5 linked regions of the Homo sapiens genome follow. The protein of the gene in region 1 interacts with the protein of each later gene in a pairwise test. Each region holds a gene or a part of one and is shown in the gene's direction. Other genes may lie near its edges.

Region 1 (2,357 bases):
CAGCTCAGGGCTGGACTCTAGGAAACTTTCTGAGGCTGGAGGGTGGGCGTGGGGTTGAGCTCAGCTGTTGAAGCAGGTGTTTGCAGATGTGCCTCAAGCAGAGGTGGTGGGCGGGGCTTGGAGGAGGTGGGTGGGGCAGGCCAAGCTCCTTGCCTCTGGTGGGCGGAGGCGGTCCTGGCTCAGATTCCACACCCTTGTCCACGCAGGTTCCTACTATCTGACCACCACCTACGGGGCCCTGGAGCACATCAAGAGCTACGACAAGATCACGGTGACCCGGCAGCTGAGTGTGGAGGTGCAGGACTCCATCCACCGCTGGGAGCGCCGGCGTACTCTCAACAAGGCCCGGGCCTCCCGCTCCTCCGTACAGGTGAGGCCTGAGAGCGGGAGGGGCCCGGTGGGGCCATGTCCCAGACACCATCCCTGCTGCCTGCTGGCTAAGGAGCCGTGACATCACCTGGCTGCTCCAGCCGCCCAGCCCTGCCTTAGGGGAGCAGTGAGACTCCCCACACCAGAGGAAGGGCCCCCAGCCCCTGCTGCCAGTGTGTGTCCAGGACTTGGGTGCGTCTAGAAACATATCAGCAGGCATTGGTGTTCTCCCTGGGCAAGCAGGAAGGGTGCAGGAGGAATGAGACACACCCATCATTCCTTAGCCCCTCCTAGGACCCAGCACCCTGCAGGGGCTGGAGATGGGGACTTGTCATCCCAGTCCCTGCTTTAAGGAGCCCACAGGCTCATCTACAGCCTTGCTCCTTAGTCCCTGGACAAATGCAGCAGCTGCCAAGGGTCTGCGTAACCCCCACCAACCCAGTGGCCCACCCCTCCCCATACCTCTCTCTATACAGACTCAGTATTCAAACCAGTCCCGCCCCTCCCCAACTCCATCACCCCACCCACCCCCAGGCTGCATCAAATCCAGCTGCCCCCAGTTCCCCAAACATGCCCAGCCCAGTTCACTGGCTGCTCAACCGCTGCCCTCACTGGTCAATCTCCCCTTCTTCACTGGCTGTCACTGCCCATCCTTTAAGACGACTCAGTTTCTCCAACAGCCCCTCCTCTGAGAAGCCTTCCCTGATACACACACACACCGTTTCACACAGGCTGGGTGGGGTGCCCTCCTCTGGGCTTCCTGCGGCCTCCCCTTTTACAGTGCATATCACATCCTATCATCCTCTGCATATGAAGCTGTCACCTCTGGGAGGGCACAGCCCATGGTTCACATGCCTCAGGGGCGCCAAGCCCAGGGCCTGGGACAGAGCAGGACTGGGTGTGTAAAAAAGGGTGAGAGTTGGACTAGTGAGCCAGGCACATCCAGAGCTGTGAGCAGCTATGCAGACTCACTCCTCTGACACCCAGAGCAGACCAGTCCTGAGCCACACTCCTGGCTTTCAAGATGGTGCATCTATAATAAGCAGAGCCCAGGCCTGGGAGACAGGAGGCTTGAGTTCTGGCCCCAGCCCTGTACTAGCTTGCTGTGTGACCCTCAGCAATCCCTGCCCCACTCTGGGACTCAGTTTTCCTGCCCACACAGGCTGACTATGGCTAATCAATTTAATAACTGACTCTCTGGGGAGAAAACAAAAGCTCTGATTTTAGCTTCTGTCCATTTCCATGGTGTGAGTCCTCCATGGCCAACTTCAACTTGGCATCACTGAATGTGGAGTTGGAAAGAAGTGTATGCAGTCGGCTCTCCCTGGCGGGTGTGAGCCAGCTCCAGCACACCTCTGTTCCCATCCCCTCCCAACACCCCGGACTCCCACAGACTGTAGGGACATGGACACTCTTGGTCCAAGCCTGGCCCAGGCATCCCGTACTTCCTGCTTCTACCTTAGGGGTTCCTGATGCTGAGCCAGGCAGAGTATGGATGAAACGGACCACCCACTGTTTGGGAGACGGAAGCTTCGGAGGGGGGTCCCCTCAGCACCACATCTGGGATCTGGGGAGGGCACCACCCTCTGCCCCCTCCCAGTGCCTCCTCCGCACACCATGCCTTGGGGGGTGGGCACCCTTCCCTGGGGAGGGGAAGCCCAGAGCTGGACAGTCACTAGCAGGTGGATAGTGCCCTGGGAGGCCTAATGGAGGACAAGGAGCCCTGAGGCAGCCACTAAGACGGAGGGAGTGGGCCGGGCTTTTCCCCTCCTGGAAGAAATGGGCGGTCCCCGTGAAGCTCTTGACAGGAGCCCGGCCTCGCCTAAGCCCTAGCCACCAGTTGCCATCACGGTCTCCGCCGAGCCGGGATCCTCAGCCGCTTCCCGCGCAGGCCTGCTGTTCCCAATCCGGCCACAAGGGGGCAGCCCCGCGCGCAGCCTCTCTGCCTGCAGCCCTGAGCCCCGGGGAAGGCGAGGCCGCTCCGGGCC
Region 2 (7,092 bases), on another chromosome or scaffold:
GTGTGTGGCGCGTGCGCACCGTTCCCGGCGACGAACGGAAGATGGCGGCGGCGGCGGCGGCGGAGTGTAGGAAGAGGCACTGCTGAGGGGGCGCGAGGGGAACGGAGGCCAGAGCTGCGGTGAGCGGGAGGCGGCGTTTGGGCCCGGAGACGAAAGGAGGAGGCTCCTAAAGAAGCAGGGGCTCGGGCGGGGAGGGCATCGCCGTGGGGAGAGGGGAACAGTGGCTTTCGCGACCCATGTTTCTTCCCTTGCTCAGGACCCTTCCTTGGCTCCCTAGTGCCCTCGAGGCAAAGTTCCAACGTGGCCCCCCGGGCGCCACCGCCCCGCAGACCTCGCTTGCTTCGACTCGGCCTCTTTGCTTTTTCCCCCACCTCTAACAGCCGCCCTGGCCTTTCGGTTCCTTAAACTTGCCATGCGCTTTCCCGCTTCGGGGATTTTGCACAGGCTGTCCCTTCTGCCTGCAACATCCTTTTACCCATTCGGCTTGGCTAACTCCCATTTCATCCTTCGGGTCTCGGCACCAACGTCACTTCCTCTGCGAAGCCCTCCTTCCCTGCCCTCCATCCAGAAATCCGCCTGTTAAATGCTTTTGTCGGTCCGTGTTCCTTCATGTCACGTGTGGTCTAATTTGTTATCCGACTCTTATCTGTGTGCTGTTTTATGATGTCTATGACCGTGTGTTCCATGAAGGTAGGGACTAGGTTTGTCTCTGTCGCCACTGTGTTCTCAGCACAGCGCCAATCACGCCGGAGACGCCCAGCTAATGTTCGTTGAAGGAATAAAAGATACTCCTAGAGCCAGTTTGGGGAAACAGGGTAGTCATCAGATTCCTAGGTAGCAGTGGGGCAGGGTACCACTTCTTAACGAGTACATCGAGAGGGAAGGGGAAACAGTGATACTGTTCATCATAGCAAAAGGCTACACGCATCCCAAATGTTCTTAAATAAGAAGATTGGCTGAAAGAAACTATAATACATCCACATAAAAAATACTATGCAACTCTAAAAAGGAATGAGGTAGATAAAAGGAAATGATGAAAATCTCTATACACTGATATAGTGGCCTCCAACATATATTAAGGGAAAACAAGTGAAGTGGAGGTTGGTGTTTATTGTATATGCTTTTTCTTTTTTTTTTTTTTTGAGACAGGGTCTCACTCTGTCGCCCAGGCTGGCACGATCCCAGTTCACTGCAACCTCCACCTCCCTGGTTCAAGTGATTCTCCCACCCCAGCCTCTCGAGTAGCTGGGATTACAAACGTGCCCCACCACACCCAGGTAATTTTTATATTTTTAGTAGAGACGGGGTTTCTCTGTGTTGGCCAGGCTGGTCTTGAACTCCTGACCTCAAGTGATCTGCCCACCTCAGCCTTCCAAAGTGCAGGGATTACAGGCCTGAGCCACCAAACTCGGCCTGTGTAGGCTCCTTTTTTTTTTTTTTGAGACAGAGTCTCACTCTGTCACCCAGGCTGGAGTGCAGTGGCGTGATCTCGGCTCACTGCAACCTCTGCCTTCCAGGTTCAAGCAATTCGCCTGCCTCAGCCTCCCAGGTAGCTGGGATTACAGGCACACCACCACGCCTGGCTAATTTTTGTATTTTTAGTAGAGATGGGGTTTCACCATGTTGGTCAGGCTGGTCTTGAACTCCTGACCTCGTGATCCACCTGCCTCCGCCTCCCGAAGTGCTGGGATTACAGGCGTGAGTCACCGCTCCCGGCCCTGTGTATGCTCTTTTTGTAAATGAAAGGGAAATATGTATATATGGGTTTTTTTATTTTCATTTTTTTTCCTTTTTTTGCATAAAATCTAGCTCCTGCAGGAGAATTTTGTGTATGTGTGTTTAAAAAAGAACAAAACAAAACTGAAAGCATAAACCAAAAAGCAGAAGAAGAATGAAACAGGGTAAAATATTTTGGTTGATCTGAATGTATTATCATGAAAAAAGTGGAAATGTTTATTATGGGGTTTTATTTTATTTTATTTTATTTTTTGAGGCAGAGTCTCATTCTGTCGCCCAGGCTGGAGTGCAGTGGTGTTGGGATTACAGGTGTGAGCCACCATGCCCGGCCTGTTTTTTTTATGTTTTGACTGGGGACGGCATGCCATGCCGGTTGTCTGGTGGCCAGGATCCTTGGCTTACGTAAACAGACCTGGGGGTAAAAAACAATTCCTTTCAGATAAACAGTACTGTAGCATAGTGGTAAGGAAGATATGCAGCCATGCTGCTGACTCTGCCTCTTACAAGCTATATGCCTTTGGTCAGGTCACTTTACCTCCCTGGTCTTCAGTTTCCTCATCTGTAAAATGAAAATTAAAAATACTAACTCCCAGCCTGGGCAACATGGCGAAACCCTTCTCTACAGAAAGTACAAAAATTAAATGGGGATTCGCCTGTAGTCTCAGCTACTTGGGAAAATGAGGTAGGAGGATCGCCTGAGCCCGGGAGGCAGAGATTGCGGTGAGCTGAGATTGCGGCACTGCACTCCAGCTTGGGCAACAGAGTGACACCCTGTCTCAAAAAAACAAAAAATGTAAACCTAACTCATGTATATTAATTCTAATATATACATATTAATTCATTTAAACCTTGGTGTCTGAGGTTTAAATGAGTTAATATGTATATCTTAGAATTGTGCTTAGCACATATTAAGTGTTCTCTCTCTCTCTTTCTCTTTCTCTCTCTGTGTGTGTGGGTTTTTTTTCTTTTTTTTTTTAATTTGAAACGCAGTTTCACTCTTGTTGCCCACGCTGGAGTGCAATGATGTGACCTCGGCTCACTGCAACCTCCTCCTCCCAAATTCAAGCGATTCTCCTGCCTCAGCCTCCCGAGTAGCTAGGATTACATGTGCCTGCCACCATGCCTGGCTAATTTTTTTGTATTTTTAGTAGAGATGAGGTTTCACCATGTTGGCCAGACTGGTCTCAAACTGCTAACCTCGGGTGATCCACCCGCCTTGGCCTCCCAAAGTGCTGGCATTATAGGCTTGAGCCACCGTGCCCGGCCGTGTTCAATATATATTAACTGATTATTTTTTCTTTTTTTTTTTTGGAAACAGGTTCATCAGGTTCATGCTCTGTTGCCCAGGTTGGACTACGGTGGCCCAATCATACTTCACTACAACCAGGCTCAAACAATCCTCCCACCTTAGCCTCCAGAGTAGCTGGGACTAAAGGTTCATGGCACCATGCCTGGCTAATTTTTTTTTTTTTTTTTTTTTTTTTTTAGATGGAGTCTTACCGTGTCTCCCAGGCTGGAGAGCAGTGGCATGATATCGATGCCCAGCTAATTGTGCATATGTCTAGAGATGGTGTGTCGCTGTGTTGCCCAGGCTGGTTTCAAACTCCTGGCCTCAAGTACTCTTCCTGCTTCAGCCTCCCAAAATGTTGGGATTATAGGCATGAACCCCTGCACCTGGCCTTCTTTTTTAGTTTTTAGGCCTAGGCTAGTCCTGAACTCCTGGCCTCAAGCCATCCTCCCACCTAGACCTACCAAAATGCTGGGTTTACAATTGTGAGCCACTATACCCGTCCTATTTTTGTTTTCTTTCCTTTCTTTGTTTTTGTTTTGTTTTATTTTTGAGACAGAGTCTTGCTCTGTCATCCAGGCTGGAGTGCAGTGGCGCAATCTCGGCTCGCTGCAACGTCTGCCTCCCAGGCTCAGGTAATTCTCATGCCTCAGCCTCCCAAGTAGCTGGGATTACAGGCATCCATCTCCATGCCCAAGTAATTTTTTTGTATTTTTAGCAGAGACTGGGTTTTGCCATGTTGGCCAGGCTGGTCTTGAACTCCTGGCCTCAAGTGATCTGTCCACTTTGGCCTCCCAAAGTGCTGGGATTACAGGAGTGAGCCACCACACCATGCCCTTTTTTTTTTTTTTTTTTAAAGACTTGTCAAGTGCAGTAGTGAGAAAGGGGGAAAAAGTAGAACAAGTATAGCTATTAGGATTCAAGAGTGAAAGGGCAGGAATACTGAACCCAGTGATTGGGGAGGCCGTTTGGCAGTAGTGTTCACTCATTCAGCAGATGTTTATTGAGCTCCTGCTAGGTGCCAAGCACTCTTCCGTGCTGGGAATATAAAAAGTGAAGGAACAAAATCCCTGTTCTAGGCCGGGGGCGATGGCTGAGACTTGTGATCCCAAGCACTTTGGGAGGCCAAGGAGGGTGGATTGCTTGAGTGCAGGAGTTCAAGACCAGCCTGGGCAACATGGCGAAACTCTGCTTCTACCAAAAAATGATTTCAAATAAATAAATCACTGTCCTCGTGGAACTTATAAATATGTAGTGTGTGATGATGATAAATGCTATGGAGAAAAAGCAACACAGATGGGGATCGAGAGGAAGTTAAAATTTGAAATATGGTCGTCGGCCGGGCGCGGTGGCTCATGCCTGTAATCCCAGCACTTTGGGAGGCCAAGGCGGGCGAATCACCTGAGGTCGGGAGTTCGAGATCAGCCTGACCAACATGGAGAAACCCCGTCTCTACTAAAAATACAAAATTAGCCAGGCGTGGTGGCACATGCCTGTAATCCCAGCTACTAGGGAGGCTGAGGCAGGAGAATCGCTTGAACTTGGGAGGCAGAGGTTGCTGTGAGCTGAGATCACGCCATTGCACTCCAGCCTGGGCAATAAGAGGGAAACTCCGTCTCAAAAAAAAAAGAAACATAGTCGTCAGGGAAGACCTTACTGCAGAGACATGTGAGTGGAGACCTGAAGGAAATGAAGAGGGAAGGAGTTGTGCTGATATCTAGGAGGAGGAATATTCCAGGCAGACGGAAGAGAGGCACAAAGTCTTTGAGGAAGGGGCATGTTGGGCATGTTCACAGGACAGCGAGGAGGCCAGAGTGGGTGGAGCAAAGAGCCCAGGGGGAGAGGCAGTCAGAGGAAGAACAGGCCAGATGCCATAAAATCTTGTAGGCCTTGATGGGGACATTGGCCCTGACCCTGAGCAAGATAGGGGGTGACAGGCAGCAGGGAAACTAGGGAGGAGGCTGTGGCTCGTCATTCATTGAGGAGACCCCTATCATGTGATACTACTGTGAATAGCTATTGGGTAGTTCCTTTTAAAAAACGTGTCATTTTCGGCTGGGCGCTGTGGCTCACACCTGTAATCCCAGCAATTTGGGAGGCCAAGGTGGGCAGATCACCTGAGGTCAGGAGTTCGAGACCAGCCTGACCAACATGGTAAAACTTCGTCTCTACTAAAAATACAAAAATTAGCTGGATGTGGTGGCACATACCTGTAATCCCAGCTACTTGGGAGATGAGGCAGGAGAATTGCTTGAACCTGGGAGGGTGGAGGTTGCGGTGAGCTGAGATTGTGCCATTACACTCCAGCCTGGGAAACAAGAGTGAAATTCCATCTAAAAAAAAAAAAAAAAAAGTATTTTCGGCTGGTTGCGGTGGCTCACGCCTGTAATCCCAGCACTTTGGGAGGCCAAGGCGGGCGGATCACGAGGTCAGGAGATCGAGACCATCCTGGCTAACATGGTGAAACCCCGTCTCTACTAAAAATACAAAAAATTAGCCGGGCGTGGTGGCAGGCGCCTGTAGTCCCAGCTACTGGGGAGGCTGAGGCAGGAGAATGGTGTGAACCCAGGAGGCGGAGCTTGCAGTGAGCCACGATCACGCCACTGCACTCCAGCCTGGGCGACAGTGCAAGACTCCATCTCAAAAAAAGAAAAAAGTATCATTTTCACCGTCCTCAGATTATTGTTTTTTTGGCATGTTTGTTTGTTTAGTGTGTGTTTTTTTTTTTTTTTTTTTTTTTTTGAGACAGAGTCTCACTCTGTCGCCCAGGCTCGAGTACAGTGTTGTGATCTCAGCTCACTGCAAGTTCCGCTTCCCGGGTTCATGCCATTCTCCTGCCTCAGCCTCCCGAGTAGCTGGGAATACAGGCGCCCGCCACCATGCCCGGCATATTTTTTTGTATTTTTAGAAGAGACGGGGTTTCACCTTGTTAGCCAGGATGGTCTCGATCTCCTGACCTCCGTGATCCGTCCGCCTTGGCCTCCCAAAGTGCTGGGATTACACGTGTGAGCCACCGCACCCAGCCTTGTTTTGTTTTTAAGACAGTCTCATTCTCGTCCAGGCTGGAGTGCAGTGGCGTGATCTCAGCTCACTGCAGCCTCTGCCTCCCAGGTTCAAGTGATTCTCCCACCTCAGCCTCCCAAGTAGGTGGGATTATAGGTATGCGCCACCATGCCTGTCTAATTTGTATGTTTTTAGTAGGGAACAGTGTTTCTCCATGTTGGCCAGTCTGGTCTCGAACTCCTGACCTCAGGTGTTCTGCCTACCTCAGCCTCCCAAGGTGCTGGGATTACAGATGTGAGCCACTGCACCTGGCCTGTTTGTTTCTGAGACAGGGTGTTGCTCTGTCCGCAGGCTGGAATGCAGTGGTAGGGATCACAGCTCACTGCATCCTCCACCTCCTGAGCTCAATTGATCCTCCCACCTTAGCCTCCCAAAATCCTGGGATTACAGGCGTGAGCTGGCCAAATTATTATTAATTATCATAATTGTTGTTAGCAGTTTATGCAGTAGCCTTCAGATCTTTTCCCATGTACATAAAAATAATAGTATACTTAGCCAATGTTTACTGTATATACTAACTCATTTAATCCTCAAAATAGTCTTGGGAGGTAAGCCCTGTTACTATCCCTGTTTCCTAGAAGAGGAAACTGAGAGCCAGAGAAGTTAAATGTCTTGCCTCAGGTCATTCTGCGTATACATAAACACATACTTGACAAAAATGGCTTGAACTGCATGTATTGTCCTCTGATGCAACAGGCTGTCAGGGACCTCTTTTCAGGATAATATACTGAGATTCACCTTTTTTTTTTGAGATGGAGTCTGTCTTTATGTCCCAGACTGGAGTGCAGTGGCATGATCTCGGCTCACTGCAACCTCCGCCTCCTGGGTTCAAGCGATTCTTCTGCCTCAGCCTCCTGAGTAGCTGGGATTATAGGCTCAGCTAACTGTTGTATTTTTACTAGAGATGGGGTTTCACCATGTTGGCCAGGCTGGTCTCAAACTCCTAACCTCAGACGATCCACCCGTTTCGGCCTCCCAAAGTGTTGGGATTACAGGCGTGAGCC
Region 3 (7,092 bases), on another chromosome or scaffold:
TGAGTAATCCATTGTTTTTTTGTTTGTTTGTTTGTTTTTGAGACAGGGTCTCGCTTTGTCACCCGGGCTAGAGTGCAGTTGCATGATCACTGCTCACTGCCATCCCAACCTCTGGGGCTCAAGCGATCCTCCCATCACCTCAGCCTCCTGAGTAGCTGGGACTACAGGTGTGCACCAGCCTGCCTAGCTAATTTTTTTATTTTTTGAATTCTTGGTTTCCCAGAGTGTTGGGATTACAGATGTGAGCCATGGCACCCAGCCAGTACTTGTTGAATAAATCAATGCTGTTGAAAAAATTGGGCAAGGCATACTGTTGTTTAAAAAGAAAATTATGGCTGTAGGAGATAAGTAATTAGGTGAATCTTTTAAATCCTGTTTTAAAAAGTCCTATTTTATTTTGTCCTAATTAAAAAAGAATCTCCGCCGGGCGTGGTGGCTCACGCCTGTAATCCCAGCACTTTGGGAGGCTGAGGCAGGCGGATCACCTGAGGTTGGGAATTCAAGACCAGCCTGACCAACCTGGAGAAACCCTGTCTCTCCTGAAAATAGAAAATTAGACAGGCGTGGTGGCTCATGCCTGTAATCTCAGCTACTCTGGAGGCTGAAGCAGGAGAATCACTTGAACCTGGGAGGCAGACATTGTGGTGAGCCAAGATGGCGCCATTGTACTCCAGACTGGGCAACAAGAGTGAAACTCTGTCTCAAAAGAAAAAAAAAATGGAAAGAATCTCAAAGGGGTTAAGCCCTACCAATGGAGGTACAAAATGAGATAACTACCATCTCTCACTTTTTTTTTTTTTTTTGGAGACAGAGTCTCACTTTGTTGCCTAGACTAGAGTGCAATGGCATGGTTTTGGCTCATTGTAGCCTCAACCTCCTGGGCTAAAGTGATCCTCCCACCTCAGCCTTCTCAGTAGCTGGAACTACAGGTGTGCACCACCACGCCTGGCTAATTTTTTTTGTATTTTTTGTAAGAGATAGGGTTTTGCCATGTTGCCCAGGCTGGTCTTGAACTCCTGGGCTCAAGTGATTTGCCCCCTCAAGCCTCCCAAAGTGCTGGGATTACAGGTGTGAGCCACTTGCCCGGCTTCCTTTTTTGTTCTTTTTAAAATTGTAGGCCTTAATTTCATTTTGTTCCTGTTCAGTGCTTAGCACAGTTCCTGGCATGTTGTAAATGTTCAATAAATGATACTACATTTGTTTTACTTAAGCAATTTTCATCATCGTAGAAAATAAGGATTAAATGAGTTAATATACATAAAGCACTTGGAATAGAATCTAGCATATAGTTAGTGCTACATAAGTGTTAACCATTATTCTCTGACACATGAACACCTTTTTGTTTTTTCTATGAAGCTTTCTCTGATTCTGCTACTTTGAATTGGTAATTTGCCTTTCTGTATTCTGGTTGTATTTTATTTATTTGTTATTAGTTTTAGAGACAGAGTATTGCTGTGTTGTTCAGGCTGAAGTGTAGGGGCCTTATGATAGCTCACTGCAGCCTTGAACTTCTGGGCTCAAGAGATCCTTCTGCTTTATCCTCCAGAGTGGCTAGGACTGCAGACATGTGCCACTATGCCCAGCTAATTTTTACATTTTTGTAGAGACATGGTCTCACTATATTGCCCAGGCTGGTCTCAAACTACTGACTTCAAGTGATCCCCTTGCTTTGGCCTCCCAAATTGCTGAGATTACAGGCACGAGCACCATACCCACCCCTCTGCTTGTATTTTATATCACATCTTTTATATTAAATAACATAGATTTGTTTGCTTGTGTGTTTCTCCACCAAATATGATTCTTGATAGCCGGGGACTATCTTATTTATTTTGGTGGTCTCAGTGCATAGTCATTGCTTGCCACATAACATTAGTTCGCTCATTTGAGCTAGGTCTTAAAGAATGAGGAGGGTGGTGTGATTGGAGCATGAGGGGCAGGGGAGTACGTCAGTGGGAAGTGAAATTTGACAAATACACTGATACCAGATTGACCAGATGGTAAGTAGTTGAATGCCAGATTAAAGGATTTGAATTTATTTTATATGCAGCAGGAAGACATTTTGATTACTGACCTCAGTTTCATATTTTAGGTAAGTAATTCTGAGTGCACAGTAGAGCGTGTATTGGAAAGAGGAAAAGAGATTGGAAACAAGAAGAATATGTAAGAAACTCTGGCTCTTGATGTATGATAAGGCTCTTTAGTTGAGAATCTTTCAGCATGTAACCTTTTACTATCATGTAATCTTTTAAGCCTTATCACAAAAAGCCTTCAGGGCTTCCTTGGTAACTTCATTTTGACTTTGTTAAAAGAAAAACTTTAGACGAAATCAATTTATCAGAATTTGTTTTTGTGTTAAAGGATTAATGAATTTGGCAGCACCCAAAATTAGAAGTAGTTCAGGGAGCTCTTGTTTTAACAGAGTAAGCGGCAGACCTTTGCAGGCTGAATGTGGAAGCGAAGTAAAGAAATTACTTGATTGGACTGGGCATAGTGGCTCATACCTGTAATCCCATCATTTTGGGAGGCTGAGGTAGGTGGATCACTTGAGCTCAGGAGTTCAAGACCAGCCTGGGCAACATGGTGAAACTCCATCTCTACAAAAAATGCAAAAATTAGCCAGGCATGGTGGCACATGCCAGTAGTCCCAGCTACTTGGGAGGCTGAGGTGGGAGGATTGCTTGAGCCTGGGAGGTTGAGGCTGCAGTGAGTTGTGATTGTGCCACTGCACTCCAGCCTGGGCAACAGAGCGAGACCCTGTCTTGAAAAAAAAAAAATTACTTGATTGTCATAGCTACTTGTTTGTCTTATTTGGGTACAATCTGGCAGAAAGTTGCTTGTTAGAGAATAGTTGTTGGTTTCTGATTAAAATTAAGTTGTGACATCCTATGGATTGGGAGGAAATATTTGCAAGCCATACATGAGATAAGGGATTAAAATTCAGAATATAAAAGGAACTCAAATAACTCTATAGAAAGAATACAAATAATCCAGTTAAAAAATGGGCAAGGAACCTGTATAGACATTTCTCAAAAGAAGACATACAAATGGCCAACAGATACATGAAAAAATGTTCAACATTACTAATCATCAGGGAAATGCAAATTAAAACCACTATGAGATATCACCCCAATATGTGTCAGAATGGCTACTATCAAACAGATGAAAGATAAGTGTTGGCAAGGCATGTGGAGAAAGGGGAACCTCTGTACACTGTTAATGGCAATGTAAATTAGTACAACCGTTATGGAAAACAGTGGCAGTTCCTCAAAAAACTAAAAATAGAATTACCATATGATCCAGCAATCCAACTTCTGGGTATTTACCTAAAAGATTGGAAATCAGTATGTTGAAGAGATATCTGCACTCCCATGTTCATTGCAGCATTAATCACAATAGCCAAGATACGGAATCAACCTAAGGGTCCTTAGACAGATGAATGGATAAAGAAAAATCTGGTGTACATACGTAGTGGAATACTATTCAGCCTTAAAAATGAAAGAAACTTTGTCATTTGTGACGACATGGATGGATTGGAGAACATTAAGCTAAATGAGATAAGCCAAGTACAAGCAGACAAACAACATATGTGCTTACTTATATATTTAATCTAAAACCGTTGAACTAAAAGAAGCAGAGAGTAGAACAGTGGTTACCAGGGTTGGAGGGAAGGCATGGGGGAATGGGGAGATGATAGTCAAAGGGGAGGAATTTTTTTCTTTGAGATATGTTGCACAGTATGGTGAATATAGTGACTAATAATGTACTTTATACTTGCTAAGAGTAACTTTTAAAAGTTTTCACTACAAAAAAAATTTGAGGTCATGGATATGTTAACTAGATTTAATTATTCCACATTGTATTCATAAATCATCACTTTGTACCTCATAAATATATAACTATAGTCAGTTTATAATTAAAAAATAAAAAGCAAAGATTAAGTTTTGTTTCACTGTTTACATTGGGCTTCAGTTTGCTTACATAGGAACCCAGAGTCCTAGGACCATCTTAGCCAAATGGCCTCCAATTAAAGATTGCTTACACTCTTTTTTTTTTTTTTTTTTTTTTTGAGACAAGAATCCTGCTCTGTTGCGCAGGCTGGAGTGCAGTGGCGCCATCTTGGCTCACTGCAACCTCTGCCTCCTGGGTTCAAGCAATTCTCCTGGCTTAGCCTCCCAAGTAGCTGGGACTACAGGTGCCCGCCACCACACCTGGCTAATTTTTTTGTATTTTTGGTAGAGACGGGGTTTCACCATATTGGTCAGGCAGGTCTCGAACTCCTGACTTCAGGCGATCCACCCGCCTTGGTCTCCCAAAGTGCTGGGATTACAGGCGTTAGCTACCACACCTGGCCAAGATTGCTTACACTTTTTAAAAAATGTTATATTGTTTTTAGTAAAACAAAGGGTAAAATTTAATAAAAAGGCACAAACACATTTTGTGTATATTGTGAAAATACCATCTATTTCCTCCAAAAGCTTATAAATTGATATGAGTATCATAAACCTGTTTATTTTTCTCCTGGACTAAGTATTGTTCAACGTTTAATGTGTATTATGTACAGGGAGGTAATGTGGGACCAGATTTTCTGGTTGGGAAAGGAGATGAGTACTGGTTTTAGTACAATAAGTTTCCATGCTTGTGTAGCACAACTGGAGATGCCTTCATGTAACAGACATATGAAGAGGTTGAGAGAGTAGGCTGGAGATTGGAAGCTATCCAAGTAAAATTGAAGCCTAGGATTTGATGAGTTTGTGTATTTGATAAAGAATAGTGTAAGAGTTGTAACTGGAAACACAATGAAATGTTTTTGTCTTTGGCTTTAGTGACATGGGATGCTTGATCACTAGTGTCTGATGCACCAGAGAAGCATGAAAATTGCAATCTTTGGGTTCAGTGAGGAAGTGGTCATTGGAGACTTGATACTATAATGATTGGGTGGTATGGCAGAGTAAAGTTGAATTGGAAAGGGATTAAGACGAGTTGATAAGGAAGTGAAGCACTGTGTAGTTAAAAAATTTCTGTGAAGAATAAGAAAGCTGGAAGAACACAAGAAACTGTAGGATTAGTGGTGGTTTTTCCAGTTACAGTGTGTGTACATGTGTGGGCGAACCATTTATAAAGAGAAGGAGGCTCAGTACAATTAAGTAAAACAACCAAGAAAATGAAACTGAAATATAGTATTTTAGAAAGGTAAAATGAACCATAGGAATGAAAAGTCCCTGAAATCCAATAAAGCTAATTTTCATCATATAAATTTGACATACAGAAGAAAAATTTTGGTATTTTAATTGTCTTTGGAAGAGTTAAAATTCTTCAACATAGTAGCCACAGGATTACAAAATCTTTGAGTCTGTAATATATGCTTAGAGTGAATTCAAGGTTTTATTTTAGTTTTTTGAGACAGGGTCTTGCTCTGTTGCCCAGCCTGGAGTGCAGTGGTGTGATCATGGCTCACTGCAGCCTCGAACTCCTGGGTTCAGGCAATAGTTCTGCCTCAGCTTCCTGAGTAGCTGGGCCTACAGGTGCATGCCACTACACCTGGCTAATTTTTAAATTTTTTATAGAGATGGTGCTCTTCTGTTGCTCTGGCTGGTCTCTAGCTCCTAACCTGAAGTGATCCTCCCTTCACAGCATCCCATCACAGCACTCCAGAGTACTATGATGACAGGTGTGAGCCACTACACTGGCCAAATTCAAGGTTTTAGAAATCCATAAAAATAGATTGCCAAAAGCTGAATAAATTAATAGACAATACAGTCAGTATTTTTGCTGAAAAAAGATAGGCATAACAGGAACATTTGATAGGTAACTTTTAGCGTGATGTGATGAAGAGAATTTTAAAGCACATTTATCATCTAATTGCCTGGAAAGAAAGAACCAGGGATGGTAAATTAGAAATTTAATAAATTTATCACCCTTTCTGTTTTACAGGACAAGTGAAATGCCGTCTGGAAAACTAATATTTAAAATGTTGGAAGATATTTAAAGTAGATATGTAGCTGAGTAAATTACTAAGATGTTAATAAATAGGAAAACATGAAAAGGACATGTAGGACAGCTTTATGTGAAAAACTTCTGTACTAATTATTAGTCATGCCTGAGTTTAAGGAGCTTTTAGTAAGTATATTGTGTTTAGTTTTATACTGAAGTTCTTATGGTGAAAGATTCTAGAGAGATTATATGTCCTCTTGAGAAAGAAATAACCTATAATCAGGAATAACCTGAATGGTTTGAATCAAAGTTAATTCTATGTGAGTTAATAACTTGTTTCCTAGTTGAGTAGCAGCATACACCCAATTGATACTCTTCTTTAGGTGACAAAATAAAGAAAAAAGTTACGTACAAATAATCAGGTAATGCCACTTCTTAAAAAAATACAATCTATGCAGGTAACAAAATGGCACTTGTAGCCCATAAATTTGTACAAATAAAAAATTATAGGCCGGGCATGGTGGCTCACACCTGTAATCCTAGCACTTTGGGAGGCTGAGGCTGGTGGATCACCTGAGGTCAGGAGATCGAGACCAGCTTGGCCAACATGGTGAAACCCCGTCTCTACTAAAAATACAAAAATTAGCCGGGCGTGGTGGCACATGCCTGTAATCCCAGCTACGCGGGAGGCTGAGGCAGGAGAATTCCTTGAACCTGGGAGGTGAAGGCTGCAGTGAGCTGAGGTTGGCACCACTGCACTCCAGCCTAGGCAACAGAGCGATACTCCGTCTCAAAAAACAAAACAAAATTATAATTCCAGGAGGTGCCTGTTCTTGGCTTCTGCCAGAGGTTACACTTTCCAGCCTGTGGGATGGCCAGACGCAGGCTGCAAAGAAAAAAAAAATTTTATATGTATATATATGTATATACACACACACACACACAAATTGAGATAGTGACAGACAAAGAATTCCAAAAGCTGTTTTAAAAACTAAATTTTCATTATATGTGCCATTAATTTGTAGTATCAGCCCATCTTTTTCAGTTTTGGTATAAGATTAATACAAAGTGAATGACAGACTACATCATTAGTGATCATGATTTGTATAATGTAATTTATGCTTTAGTGAGTTATTTTCCATATAGTAAAATGCCTTTATT
Region 4 (6,263 bases), on another chromosome or scaffold:
AGGCTTTCATCTGTAAAATGGGAGCTGATCAAGTCAAGGGAGTAGTGCTTAGTGAAGCCCAGACGTCTGTACCAGTGTGAGGACCCAGACGTCTGTACCAGTGTGAGAAACTGTTACTCTCTTAGGGTGTTGGACAATATGGACATGAGTTATGACACTGTAATCATGTGTCATTGATGGAAATTTTCCTAGTTATTTTAACTAATATTTTCTTAGAACAGGAAAGTTTTCCAGAGATCATCTAATCACTAGATTCTAATCTAACCCCTCCATTTTACAGATAAACTGAGGCCCAGAATAAATTTCTACCTTATTAATTACAGCAGCAACTGTATAAACTTGAAAGATCTCAGTATATGTGTGTGTAACAAACACACACACACACACACACACACACTCGTTCTCAGACATGAATCTGTGGCCTTATGGTAACTCCACAGCCTGCTCTGATATCTGCAGCCCACATGTTGGGAAGCCCACTGACTCAGTTACATGTTAAAAAATCAAATATAGGCCAGGCGCGGTGGCTCACGCCTGTAATCCCAGCACTTTGGGAGGCCAAGATGGGCGGATCACCTGAGGTCAGGAGTTTGAGACCAGCCTGGCCAACATGGTGAAACCCCGTCTCTACCAAAAATACAAAAATTAGCTGGGCGTGGTGGTGGGCGCCTGTAATCCCAGCAACTCAGGAGGCTGAGGCAGGAAAATCTCTTGAACCCGGGAGGCGGAGCTTGCAGTGAGCCGAGATGGCGCCACTGCACTCCAGCCTGGGCGACAGAGCGAGACTCCGTTTCAAAATAAATAAATAAATAAGTACATAGATAAATAAATAAACACTTGCACATTTCATTCACTGTCTGTTCTCATTCTGGTTTTCCCCGTGGCACGTAGTTCTGACACTTGAATGTGCATGAGAATCACCTGGAGGGCTTTTGCCGGAACACGGATTGCTGGGCTCCCTCCCCAGAGTTTCTGATTCAGGATGGCGGGGAAGTTTTGCATTTCTAACAGGTTCTCAGGTGATGTGATGCGGCTGGGCAGGGACCCCATTTTGGGAACCACTGCCCTAGGCTTACTGATTCATCTTGACTCCTTTAACTCAGAGTCAAAACTTACTATGCACCTTTGTCTGATCCCTCCCCAACTCCAAACCAGCTTGACCTCAGTGGGAGAATGACTCCATGACTCTGCAGAAAAACGCTATGTAGGTGTTATTCACATTTTTAAAATAGGCATTTTTGGGGGAGGGAGAAAAAAATCTAGAACCCTAAGAAAGAATCCAATATGGGCCGGGCACGGTGGCTCATGCCTGTAATCCCAGCACTTTGGGAGGCTGAAGCAGGTGGATCACAAGGTCAGGAGATTGAGACCGGCATGACCAACACAGTGAAACCCCATTTCTACTAAAAATACAAAAATTAGCTGGGTGTGGTGGCGCATGCTTGTAGTCCCAGCTACTTGGGAGGCTGAGGCAGGAGAATCGCTTGAACTCAGAGGCAGAGGTTGCAGTGAGCTGAGATCGTGCCACTGCACTCCAGCCTGGGCGACAGAGTGAGACTCTGTCTCAAAAAGAAAGAGAGAGAGAGAAAGAAGGAAGGAAGGGAAGGAAGGAAGGAACGAGAAAGAAGCCAATGTAGAAGCAGGCTAGAAACCTGTCAAGGAAGGAAACCCAGTTATTTTCTGGGAGGGCAGTGGGAGCACAGACTGATGGCCAAGAAAGCTCTCAGCTGGAGAAACACAGCGACAGAAGTGGAGTCATTTCAGAGCTTGGCTGCAGCTTCTCTCTCGCTGTTTCTCTCCCTTCTTTCCCTCCCTCCCACTTCTCTCCTTCCCTTCTTTCCTGCTTCTTTCTTTCCTTCCTTCCCTCCCTTCCTTTTTTTTATCCTTGATTTGAAATAGAGAAGAATCAGAGTTGGGAACCTGGAACTTTTGAAAATGCAGCTTTTCCTTAGAAGAGTCAGTGGTGGGCCTGTGGTAGCTTCTTCTTTAGCTCAGAGGCTGAATGGCTGTAATGTGCAAAAGGTTTGTGATGCCAAGCTGCTGAGCAGCTCAGGCGAACTCACGGTCAGGGAGATCCGGGGCCTGCGATTCTGCTTCTTGGTCCTTTCTCTCCTAGAAACCCCTCACGGCCTCCCCACCATGGGTTATGCTTCAAAGGGGGTGCCATGGACAGAATTCTCCCCCATGACAGGACGGAAGAACACTGAGACCAGAGAAGTCAGACCTGTGCAGACCGCCCCACAGACTCCCCAGCTGCGACCCCGTCTTAGCTCAGCGTTTCTCCTCCCTCCGCAGGCTCCCCAGCTGCGACCCCGTCTTAGCTCAGTGTTTCTCCTCCCTCCGCAGGTGCTTACTGCTCTGTTGTCAGGTGGCCTGGCTTTACTTGGAGCCCTGATTTGCTTTGTCACTTCTGGAGTTGCTCTGAAAGATGGTCCTTTTTGCATGTTTGATGTTTCATCCTTCAATCAGACACAAGCTTGGAAATATGGTTACCCATTCAAAGACCTGCATAGTAGGTAAATGGGTGGAGGCTTGGGCTTGGTCTTTTCAGACAGAGAGAGAGAGAGAGACAAAAAGACACACAGACGAACTACAAGCTCCTTTGGGTCACACATCCTAGCATCTTGCTCCTCTGATACTCAGAAAATTGCAAATGGAGCAGTAACGGTCACCCTCATGAGCCCAGTCCCATGACCCGGTCAGGGGAGACCCCAGTTTTCTACTGGGGTTGCCTGTTTGGCTTTCCTTACTTATCGCCTGACCCCTGGTCTCCTTATTTTTTGGGATAGGAATTATCTGTATGACCGTTCGCTCTGGAACTCCGTCTGCCTGGAGCCCTCTGCAGCTGTTGTCTGGCACGTGTCCCTCTTCTCCGCCCTTCTGTGCATCAGCCTGCTCCAGCTTCTCCTGGTGGTCGTTCATGTCATCAACAGCCTCCTGGGCCTTTTCTGCAGCCTCTGCGAGAAGTGACAGGCAGAACCTTCACTTGCAAGCATGGGTGTTTTCATCATCGGCTGTCTTGAATCCTTTCTACAAGGAGTGGGTACGAATTATAAACAAACTTCCCCTTTAGGTATCCCTGGAGTAATAATGACAACAAAATTCACTGCAGGTCGGTGGAATGATAGAATGCATTTTAAATCACATTGTAAACTTCCAGGTGATCCATGGATAGGATAAATAACTAAGTTATTATAATTGTTTAGGAATTTATAGTCCATAAAATATCCTCCAGCCAGGGTCTCATTTCAGCTTCTTGACAATCCCATAAAGTTGGCCATTTGTTACACATAGAGAAGTTGAGGCTCACAGAGGGTAACAGGCTTGCTGTAAAAGCACACAGTGAAGTTAAGGTGAAGTCAGCACCTGACCCCCTATCTCCCTGTTGTTTTGTTGTTGCTGAGACAGGGTCTTGCTCTGTTCCCCTGTCTGGAGTACAGTGGCACAATCATAGCTTACTGTAACCTACAACCCATGCACTCAAGCGATCCTCCTGCCTTAGCCTCCGAGTAGCTGGGACTACAGGCACACACCACTACACCTGGCTAATTTTTAAATTTTCTGTAGAGAGGGAGTCTCGCTATATTGCCCAGTCTGGTCTTGAACTCCTGACCTCAAGTGATCCTCCCACCTTGGTCTCCCAAAGCGCTGGATTACAGGCATGAGTCACTGTGCCTGGCCCCAACCCCCATCTTCTAAATTCAACTTCTCCAGTTATTGTGGACTAAATAGTGTTTCCTCCAAATCTGTAGGTTGAAGCCCTAACCCCCAATATGACAGTCTTTGGTGGTGGCACTTTTTTTTTTTTTTTTTGAGACAGTCTCGCTCTGTCACCCAGGCTGGAGTGCAGTGGCGTGATCTCGGCTCACTGCAACCTCCACCTCCCAGGTTCAAGTGATTCTCCTGCCTCAGCCTCCTGAGTAGCTGGGATTACAGGCATGTGCCACCACACCCAGCTAATTTTTGTATTTTTAGTAGAGACGGGGGTTTCACCATGTTGGCCAGGCTGGTCTCGAACTCCTGGCTGCAAGTGATCCGCCCACCTTGGCCTCCAAAAGTGCTGGGATTACAGGTGTGAGCCACCGCGCCTGGCCATGATGGCACCTTTAAATTAGTAATTAAGGTTAAATGAGACTGGGCGCAATGGCTCACACCTGTAATCTGAGCACTTTGGGAGGCCAATGTGGGAAGATCACTTGTGACCAGGGGTTTGAGACTAACCTGGGCAACACAGTGAGACCTCGTCTCAAAAAAAAAAAACACAACAACAAATGATTAAATGAGGCCATAGGGTGGGACCCTAATTAAATAGGACTGGTGTGCTTATAAAAAGAGGAAGAAAGAACAGAGCTCTCTACACTGGCTCAAAGAAAAAGGCCCTGTAAGGACCCAGTGAGAAGGCGGCTGTCTGCAAGCGCAGGGGCGAGGCCTCAGGAGATACCAAACCTGCTGGCACCTGGATCTTGGACTTCTAGCCTCCAGCACTGTGAGAAAATCTATTTCAGTTGCTTAAGTGCCCAGTTCATGGTATTCTGCAACAGCAGCCTGGCAGACTAATACACCAGCATTCTCTTCACTAGTGTTCAAGAGTTCAACAAGTAGAGGAGCATCACCTCTGTCCACACAGTTTGGATATCTGTCCTCACCCAAATCTCATGTTGAATTGTGATCCCCAGTGCTAGAGGTGGGGCCTGGCAGAAGGTGTGTGGATCATGAGGCGGATCCCTCACGGCTCAGAGCTGTCTTTGTGATAGTGGGTTCCCGCGAGATCTGGTCATTTAGAAGCGTGTGGCACCTCTGGCCTCTCTCTCGCCTGCTCCTGCTCTCACTATGTGACTCGCCTGCTCCCTCTTCACCTGCTGCCATGAGTAAAAGCTCTCTGAGGCCTCCCCAGAAGCTGAGTGATGTGGGTGCTATGCTTCCTGTAACCCCTGCAGAACTGTGAGCCAATTAAATCTCTTTTTCTTTTTTATGGAGTCTCGCTCTGTTGCCCAGGCTGGAGTGCAGTGGCATGATCTCGGCTCACTGCACCCTCTGCCTCCCAAGTTCAAGCGATTCTCCTGCTTCAGCCTCCTGAGTGGCTGGGATTACAGGCACCCGCCACCACACCTGGCTATTTTTTTTGTACTTTTAGTAGAGATGGGTTTTCACCATATTGGCCAGGCTGGTCTTGAACTCCTGACCTTGTGACCCGCCCACCTCGGCCTCCCAAAGTGCTGGGATTACAGGCGTGAGCCACCCAACCCGACCTCACAGCTGCTTCTCACACGGCACCTAGAAGCAGGGGCCTCCTGCTCTCCCACTGCGGGGTTTTCAGTCAGGTCGGGCTGGGTGGTGAGGAGAGTCAGAGCGGAATGAGGAAGATGCTGGTGGGAGAGTGTGGTGTGACAGGCAGGAAGAGGACAAGGCAGGCAGAAGCAGCCTGGGAGGAACCTGGAAGATGGGCACTGGCAAGAAAAGTGGTGGGCGGTCCCCAGAAACGAGTTTGAGAACCCCAGGCTCTGGCCGGGCACGGTGGCTCACACCTGCAATCCCAGCACTTTGGGAGGCCACGGTGGGTGGATCACCAGAAGTCAGGAGTTTGAGACCAGCCTGGCCAACATAGTGAAACTTCAGCTCTACAAAAAATACAAAAATTATATGGGCGTGGTGGTGCATGTCGGTAATCCCAGCTATTCAGAGGCTGAAGCAGGAGAATTGCTTGAAACCAGGAGACAGAGGTTGCAGTGAGCCGAGATTGCACCACTGAACTCCAGCCTGGGGGACAGAGACTCTGTCTCACAAAAAAAAAAAAAAAAAAAAAAAAAGAGGCCGGGTGCAGTGGCTCACACCTGTAATCCCAGCACTTTAGGAGTCTGAGGCAGGCAGATCATGAGGTCAGAAGTTCACGACCAGCCTAGCCAACATGGTGAAACCCCGTCTCTATAAAAAATACAAAAATTAGCCAGGTGTGGTGGTGTGCACCTGTAATCCCAGCTACTCGGGAGGCTGAGGCAGGAGAATTGCTTGAACCCGAGAGGCGGAGGTTGCAGTGAGCCGAGATCATGCCACTGCACTCCAGGCTGGGGGTCAGAGCGAGATTCTGTCTCGGGAAAACAAAAAACAAAAAAAACCCTCCCGGAAACACAGCACCCCAGGCTCTGTTGGAAGGGAATGTGGGGCCCAGGTGCTGCTCTATCCCCTCCTCAGTCCCCTGGATCCCAGCTTGATTCCTCCACTATTCTGCCTCAGTGAGGAGTTGCTGAAGCACTGGGGGCTTCCAG
Region 5 (7,092 bases), on another chromosome or scaffold:
AACCTGAGGTGAGAGAGGTCCTCCTTCTCAGATGGCAGCATCAGTATCTGAGCCCGCATAGGTTCAGATTTAAATTGTTTCTCCGGTTGTGACAAAAACAAGGTGCTGCTCTGCCTACAAGCATTTTCTGCCCTGAATAATGCCTTTGGGAGGGTTTCCACATCTTTCCTTGCTCTGGACTAAGGATCAAGTAAAAAAAGAGAGTGGGGCAGGGATGCTCCACTGGATTGGATCTGTCTAGACTCACTGCTAGCAGTGAGAAATCCAACTCCATCTAGATGGGTGAGAAGGGGGATTTGTAGGAAGATCCCTGGAGCAGCTCAGTCATGTGACTAGATCCAAAGGCAATGTGCCCAACCCTCCCCTCGCAGCTCCACACTCTGGGCCTGTCCTCACTGCTCTAGCGCTGGGTGAGTGCCTTCAAGCACCTTCTCTGCCACTTCTGAGTGGGTTAGGATGACCCTGAGGAAGCCCACAGCCTGGCAAGGGTGGCTTGTGTCTAGCTCCAGACCGGCTACCACAGCCGAGGGGAGGGGAACCATGATAGGCCCAGCCAGGACCACAGCCCCCACTCGGGCTCAGGCTAGGCTCAGGAGCACGGCGGCGGGGGCGGGGGGTGCTCAGGAGCATGGGGAAGCCTTTCAGAGAAGAGGGAAGGAAGCAGGGCAAGTGCCCAGCACAGATGCTGCATAATCTACAATAGCAAAAGATTGGAAGCTGCCCAGTAGTACTGAACAAAACAAGGTTAAATAAAGCTGCTCTAGCCACTCAGCAAAACACTATGTAGCTGTTTAACAAGCAGGAATATCTGGTGGGAATGACAGGACTCGCTGTTTCTCTGTCTACACACATGCACACACACACACACACAACAAACATGCACACACACATACATACACATATGTAATAATTCACAGGTAAGAAAAATATAGGCAAGAATTATATCATAATAGAAGAATCAAATGGCTTTTAATCTGTTTACCAAACTTTTCTTTACGGGTTCAACAAATTATTGTCTGTACCAGGCAAGGCACTGGGGACATGACAGGGAACACAATAGAAGAAAAATCCCTGCCCTCATGGAATTTACATTCTAGTGGGGGAGGCAGATGACAAGATAAATAAGCAAAATACACCTTATATTGGATAACGATAGTGTAAGGAGAAAAAGCAATGAAGGCAAAGGGGAAGTTGGGATGCAGTGGTAACGGTTTAGACACGATGACCAGGGAAGGCTGAAGGAAATGAGGGACCAAGCTCTGCAGATATTGGGAGAGGTGCATTTTGGGCAGCGGGAATAGCAGGTGCAAAGGCCCTGAGGTGCCCACGCAGGGAACAGCATGGAGGTGATGTGGCTAGAGTGCGGTTATGAGGGGGAAGGGCAAACTAAGAGAGGAGTCAGAGAGGAAATGCAGCCAGATCACATGGGGCCTTGCAGCCAGCCACCCTAAAGGCTTTGGCTTTGTTGCAGTGAAATGAGAGCTATTTGAGGGCTTTGAGCAGAGAAGTAGCCAACCCTTCAGAAGGTTCCCTCTGACTCTGAGTTGAGAACAAGCTGAAAGGAGGTAAAGGCAGAGGCTTGGAGGCCGCAGTCATTCAGGTGAGAGGGGAGAATGACCTGGAGGGTGGTAGGAGCGGGAGGGGAGCAGTGGCCACTCTACAAGTAGAGTCTTTTGACAAGTGAAGAGAAGAGAGATACAAAAGTCAAAGATGACGCCCCAGGCTTTGGGCCTGAGCAACCAGGAGGTTGGGGTGCTCCTTAACAGAGATGTGGGAAGAGGATCAGGAGAGTCGGGCATCCTAGAAGCCAGGTGAGACAAGGCTTCGAGGAAGAGAAAGTGACCAACTCCATCACACGCTGCTGGTAGTCAGGAAGGATGGCAACAGAGAACAGGCCATTGGGATGAGCAACCAGGCACTCACTGTAGACCTTGGTAAGAGATATCTGGGGAGAGGGGAGTGGAAGCCAAGCCTGCCTGAAATGAGGGGCTCAAAAGAGAATGGGATAGCAGCATCATTCACAATAGACAAAAGGTGGAAGCAACTCAGTGTCCATGACAGATGAATGGTAGAACAAAATGTGGCAAATGCATAGAATTGAATAATATTCTGCCTTAAAAAGGAGGGAAATTCCATGCCAGCTGTGCTGGCTCACGCCTGTAATCCCAGCACTTTGGGAGGCCCAGGGAGGGGGACTGCCTGAGCTCAGGGGCTCGAGACCAGCCTGGGCAACATGGCAAAACCCTGTCTCTACCAAAAATACAAAAAAATTAATTGGGCATAGTGGTGCATGCCTGTAGTCCCAGCTAACCCGGAAGCTGAGGTCAGAGGATTGCTTGAGCCTGGGGGGTAGAGGTTGCAGTGAGCTGAGATTGTGCCACTGCAGCAATCAGTGACAGAGTGAGGCCCCGTCTCAAAAAACAAAACAGAAAACCAAAAACCAAGAAGGAAATTCTTTCTTTTTTTTTTCTTTCTTTTTTTTTCTTTTTTTGGAGACAGGGTTTCCCTCTGTTATCCAGGCTGGGATGCAGCGGCAAGATCACGGCTCACTGCAGCCTCAACTTCCCTGACTCAAGTGATCCTCCCATCTCAGCCCCCAAGTAGCTGAGATTACAGGTGCATGCCACCACGCCCAGCAAATTGCTGTATTTTTTGTAGACAGGGTATCACCATGTTGCCAAGGCTGGTTTTGAACCCCTGGGCTCAACATCCGCCTCCTCGGTGCTGGGATTACAGGCATGAGCCACCATACCCAGCCCAAAGGAAGGAAATTCTGACACATGTTACAACATGGGTGAACCTTGAGCACATTATGCTGAGTGAAATAAGCCAGTCACAAAAGGACAAATATGGCATGATTCCACTTATATGAGGTATCTAGAACAGTCAAATTCAGAGACAGAAAGTAGAATGCTGGTCTCCAGGGACTAGGGGCAGGGGGGAATGGGAGTTGCTGTTTAATGGATACAGTGTTTCAGTGTCACAAGATGAAAAGCTCTGCAGATTGGTTGCACAATAATATCAGTATACGCAACACTACTGACCTGAAAACTTAAAAATAGTCAACACAGTAAATTTTACGTTATGTGTGTTTTATCACAATTTTTTGAGACACAATAGAAGGCAAAAAATTAGTAAGTCCAGAAAATTATTTCAAAAAGTTTTGCTCTAAACTGAAGAGAAATGGGTGTATAACTGTAGGGAGAAGTAGGGTGGAGAGAGGGTTCTGCTGTTTTTAAGTTGGGAGAAATAACTGCATGTTTATTTGCTGATGGGACCAATCCAGTAGGCCATGGTCTTAAATGTTGAAATTACTTGCAAAAGGCCGGGCGCAGTGGCTCACGCCTCACGCCTGTAATCCCAGCACTTCGGGAGGCCGAGGCGGGCAGATAACTTGAGGTCAGGAGTTCGACACCAGCCTGGCCAACATGGTGAAACCCTATCTCTACGAAAAATACAAAATTAGCCGGGTGTGATGGTGTGCACCTGTAGTCCCAGCTACTAAGGAGGATGAGGCAGGAGAATCACTTGAGCCCAGGAGGCAGAGGTTGCAGTAAGCTGAGATTATGTCACTGCACTCCAGCCTGGGCAACAGAGCAGGACTCCATCACAAAACAAAAAAAAAAGAAATTACTTGCAAAAGAAAAACTGTATTTTAGGATGATAAATATTCTGGAACTAGTGGTGATATCTGCACTACCGTATGCATGTGCTAAAAAACAGACTGGGTACTTGAAAAGGGTCAATTTTGTGGTATGTTAATTATACCTCAATAAAAATAAAAGCTATAATAAATGTTTAATGTCTTCCAAATACCATGTTCTCATACAGGCTGAGTTCCCACCCAGGCAGCCCCAGATACCTACAGTTTCTGTGGCCAGTGACCCACCACAGCTAGGTGGTAGCCTGCGGAACAGGAGAGGCAAGGTCATCCTCATTACGGCTGAGTCACAAATGCTGCATTAGCACACACAGCCCCCTACAGCTAGATCTACGGAGCATGCACCAATTTGTTGCAGATAAATGGCACCTTTTACTTAGGCCCATGAACTCTCAGGTCTTCAGTCTTAAAATGAAATCTAAGAGCTGGGCACAGTAATTCACATCTGTAATCCCAGCTACTCAGGAGGCTGAGGCAGGAGGATCACTTGAGGCCAGGAGGGCAACACAGTGAGACTCTGTCTCCAAAACAAAAAAAAAAAACCCTAAAATGTAAGAAAAAATCCTTTCAATCAGAACAAGAAACTCTGCACCCCCACTGCCAATCTGCCCACCCATCTGGTCCACCTGTAATTGCAAGAGAACAAGGGAGGGACTTATTTTGCAGTCAATCAAAGGGGAGGGAATTCTTTCCGAAATGTTCTCCTATCTGTACCAACAGCACACTTCCACTTCCAACCATTACACTTTTCCTTTCTTTCTTTTTTTTTTTTTCTGAAACAGAGTCTGACTCTGTCACCCAGGTACAGTGGCATGATCTTGGCTCACCGCAACCTCCGCCTCCCAGGTTCAAGCGATTCACCTGCCTCAGCCTCCCAAGTAGCTGGGATTGCAGGCACCCGCCACCATGCCTGGCTTAATTTTTGTATTTTTAGTAGAGACGGGGTTTCACCATGTTGGCTAGGCTGGTCTTGAACTCCTGACCTCAAGTGATCCATCCGCCTCGGCCTCCCAAAGTGCTGGGACTATTGGCGTGAGCCACCGCGCCCAGGCTTTTGCCTTTTTCCTTTCTTCTGAACAACCTCAAACAGTATTTTACCCACTGTGATGATTAATTTTATGTGTCAACTTGGCTAGACCATGGTAACCAGCTATTTGGTCAAACATTCTAGACATTTCTGTGAAGGTATTTTTTAGATGAGATTAACATTTAAATCAGTGGACTTAGAGTAAAGCAGATTATTCTCCATGATGTGGTGGGCTTTATCCAATCAGCTATAAGCCTTAATAGAAAAAGACCGACCTCCCAGAGCAGGAAGAATTCTACCCAGAGAGCCTTTGGGCTCACTGCAACTCTTCCCTGGGTCTCCGGCCTGCCAGTCTACCTTGCTGATTTTTGACTCACCTGGCCTCCACAATCACATGAGCCAATTCCTAAAAATCAACCTCTCAATAGATAGATGAGCGATTGATTGACACACATCCTGTTGGTTCTGTTTCTCTCCAAACCCTAATACACACCCAAAATAAGTGATTTTCCAATAGAAATTGTCTGTAAGGACCTGTACTTGCATGAAATTTCAAGTCACCAGATAAATGAATAAAAATATATTTTTTAAAAACCACAAAATATGGCAACCCAGAAAGAATAACATTTGTCGGCCAGGCGCGGTGGCTCACGCCTGTAATCCCAGTACTTTGGGAGGCCAAGGCGGGTGGATCACAAGGTCAGGAGATCGAGACTATCCTGGCTAACACGGTGAAACCCTGTCTCTTCTAAAAATACAAAAACAAAATTAGCCGGGCGTGGTGGCGGGCGCCTGTACTCCCAGTTACTCGGGAGGCTGAGGCGGGAGAATGGCGTGAACCCAGGAGGCAGAGCTTATAGTGAGCCAAGATTGCGCCACTGCACTCCAGCCTGGGTGACAGCAAGACTCTGTCTCAAAATAATAATAATAATAATAATAATAATAATAATAATATTTGTCTATATACTGATCAAAGCTATCATAGTAGATATATTTGTTTTCAAATGCAACTTTAGGGTGGGTGCAGTGGCTCACACCTGTAATCCCAGCACACTGGGAGGCTGAGGCCAGAAAATCACATGAGGCCAGGAGTTTGAGACCAGCCTGGGTAATACAGAGAGACCCAGTCTCTACAAAAAATTTAAAAAATTAGCCGGCGTGAGACCAGGCACGGTGGCTCATGCCTGTAATCCCAGCACTTTGAGAGGCCGAGGCGGGCGGATCATGAGGTCAGGAGATCGAGACCATTGGCTAACACGGTGAAACCCCGTCTCTACTAAAAAAAAAAAACAAAACAAAAAAATTAGCCAGGCAAAGTGGCGGGCTCCTGTGGTCCCAGCTACTCAGAAGGCTGAGGTAGGAGAATGGCGTGAACCTGGGAGGCAGAGCTTGCAGTGAGCCAAGATCACACCACTGCACTCCAGCCTGGGCGACAGAGCAAGACTCCGTCTCAAAAAAAACAAAAACAAACAAACAACAACAAAAAATTAGCCGGTGTGGTGGCATGCACCTGTAGTCCCAGTTACTCTGGAGGCCAAGGCAAGAGGATCACTTGAGCCCAGAGGACACTAGACACGCATAGGGTAACTATTGTTTCACCAAATAATTCAGATATGCGCGCACACACACATACACACACACACACACACACACCAGGTTACCAGGTTGCAGTCTATGTTTTACAATAGGTCACAGTCAAAAACATGGGAGAAGCCACCATACTCCACCACACAATAAATGCTTAATAAAATTTGGTAGCATCATCATTCTTATCTCACTCTAAAAGGTAATACGTTCATTTTCTTCATTAGCATTTATTATCACAATAAAATAGAGCTTCTAACACATTTATCAATGCTGCCACTCACTGCAGTGCTGTTTAAGAGTCATTGCACCTCCCTAAATTAACTTGCCAATTCTCTCGCCTCAAAAGGACTCAGGCAATCATTTAAATAATTTCTGACTCACAAAGCTGGCCAAGGATTAGCGAGGCCCTGCCCAGCCCAGAACACATGAAATGTGAGTGATTTGTTAAGAAAACCATTTGAGTTTGCAAGACTGCACAGGGCTTTTATAAAACTAAAGCCATGCTGGAGAGAAACAGTCCTCCCCACCCCCTTGGGAGATGTGTCATAGAGATAGGTCACACAAGGTCAGCCAAGCTGTACCTTCTGAGACTGGGCAGGAACTGAAGCGCCAAACCTCAACTGTGTAACGTGCTTCCTTGTTTTGGGGTTAGGTTATATCATTGTGTTTTTCCCCTAACTTTCCATGTGCACACACACGCACACACCCCCCTCACTAAAGGATGGAAACAAAATCCCTATGAACTGCCGGTTCCAACAACTTAAATAAGGGAATCTGCTAAGGCAAAAGATCTGATTTTTTTTTTTTTTTTTTCTGA

The links.
Region 2: the proteins of RIN3 (region 1) and SYMPK interact in a two-hybrid assay, tested with the Homo sapiens proteins (one large-scale study listed by BioGRID and IntAct).
Region 3: the proteins of RIN3 (region 1) and ASB3 interact in a two-hybrid assay, tested with the Homo sapiens proteins (one large-scale study listed by BioGRID).
Region 4: the proteins of RIN3 (region 1) and TM4SF19 interact in a two-hybrid assay, tested with the Homo sapiens proteins (one large-scale study listed by BioGRID and IntAct).
Region 5: the proteins of RIN3 (region 1) and SPATA12 interact in a two-hybrid assay, tested with the Homo sapiens proteins (one large-scale study listed by BioGRID and IntAct).

Annotation. Positions count from the first base shown.
Region 1 is NC_000014.9:92,684,781-92,687,137, forward strand, and holds part of RIN3 (ras and Rab interactor 3), read left to right. Parts: intron 1-206; coding exon 207-370; intron 371-2,357. UniProt on the Homo sapiens protein: Ras effector protein that functions as a guanine nucleotide exchange (GEF) for RAB5B and RAB31, by exchanging bound GDP for free GTP. Required for normal RAB31 function.
Region 2 is NC_000019.10:45,856,085-45,863,176, reverse strand, and holds the start of SYMPK (symplekin), read left to right. Parts: upstream 1-29; 5' UTR 30-119; intron 120-1,149; exon of another isoform or gene 1,150-1,277; intron 1,278-7,092. UniProt on the Homo sapiens protein: Scaffold protein that functions as a component of a multimolecular complex involved in histone mRNA 3'-end processing. Specific component of the tight junction (TJ) plaque, but might not be an exclusively junctional component. May have a house-keeping rule.
Region 3 is NC_000002.12:53,775,124-53,782,215, reverse strand, and holds part of ASB3 (ankyrin repeat and SOCS box protein 3), read left to right. Parts: intron 1-7,019; exon of another isoform or gene 7,020-7,092. UniProt on the Homo sapiens protein: Probable substrate-recognition component of a SCF-like ECS (Elongin-Cullin-SOCS-box protein) E3 ubiquitin-protein ligase complex which mediates the ubiquitination and subsequent proteasomal degradation of target proteins. Recognizes TNFRSF1B.
Region 4 is NC_000003.12:196,320,524-196,326,786, reverse strand, and holds the end of TM4SF19 (transmembrane 4 L6 family member 19), read left to right. Parts: intron 1-1,216; exon of another isoform or gene 1,217-2,346; coding exon 2,347-2,516; exon of another isoform or gene 2,517-2,789; coding exon 2,790-2,970; coding exon of another isoform or gene 2,971-3,073; 3' UTR 3,074-3,240; downstream 3,241-6,263. UniProt on the Homo sapiens protein: Negatively regulates vacuolar (H+)-ATPase (V-ATPase) activity by interacting with members of V-ATPase V0 complex and hence inhibiting V1-V0 complex assembly. Required for multinucleation during osteoclast differentiation.
Region 5 is NC_000003.12:57,061,850-57,068,941, forward strand, and holds part of SPATA12 (spermatogenesis-associated protein 12), read left to right. Parts: intron 1-7,092.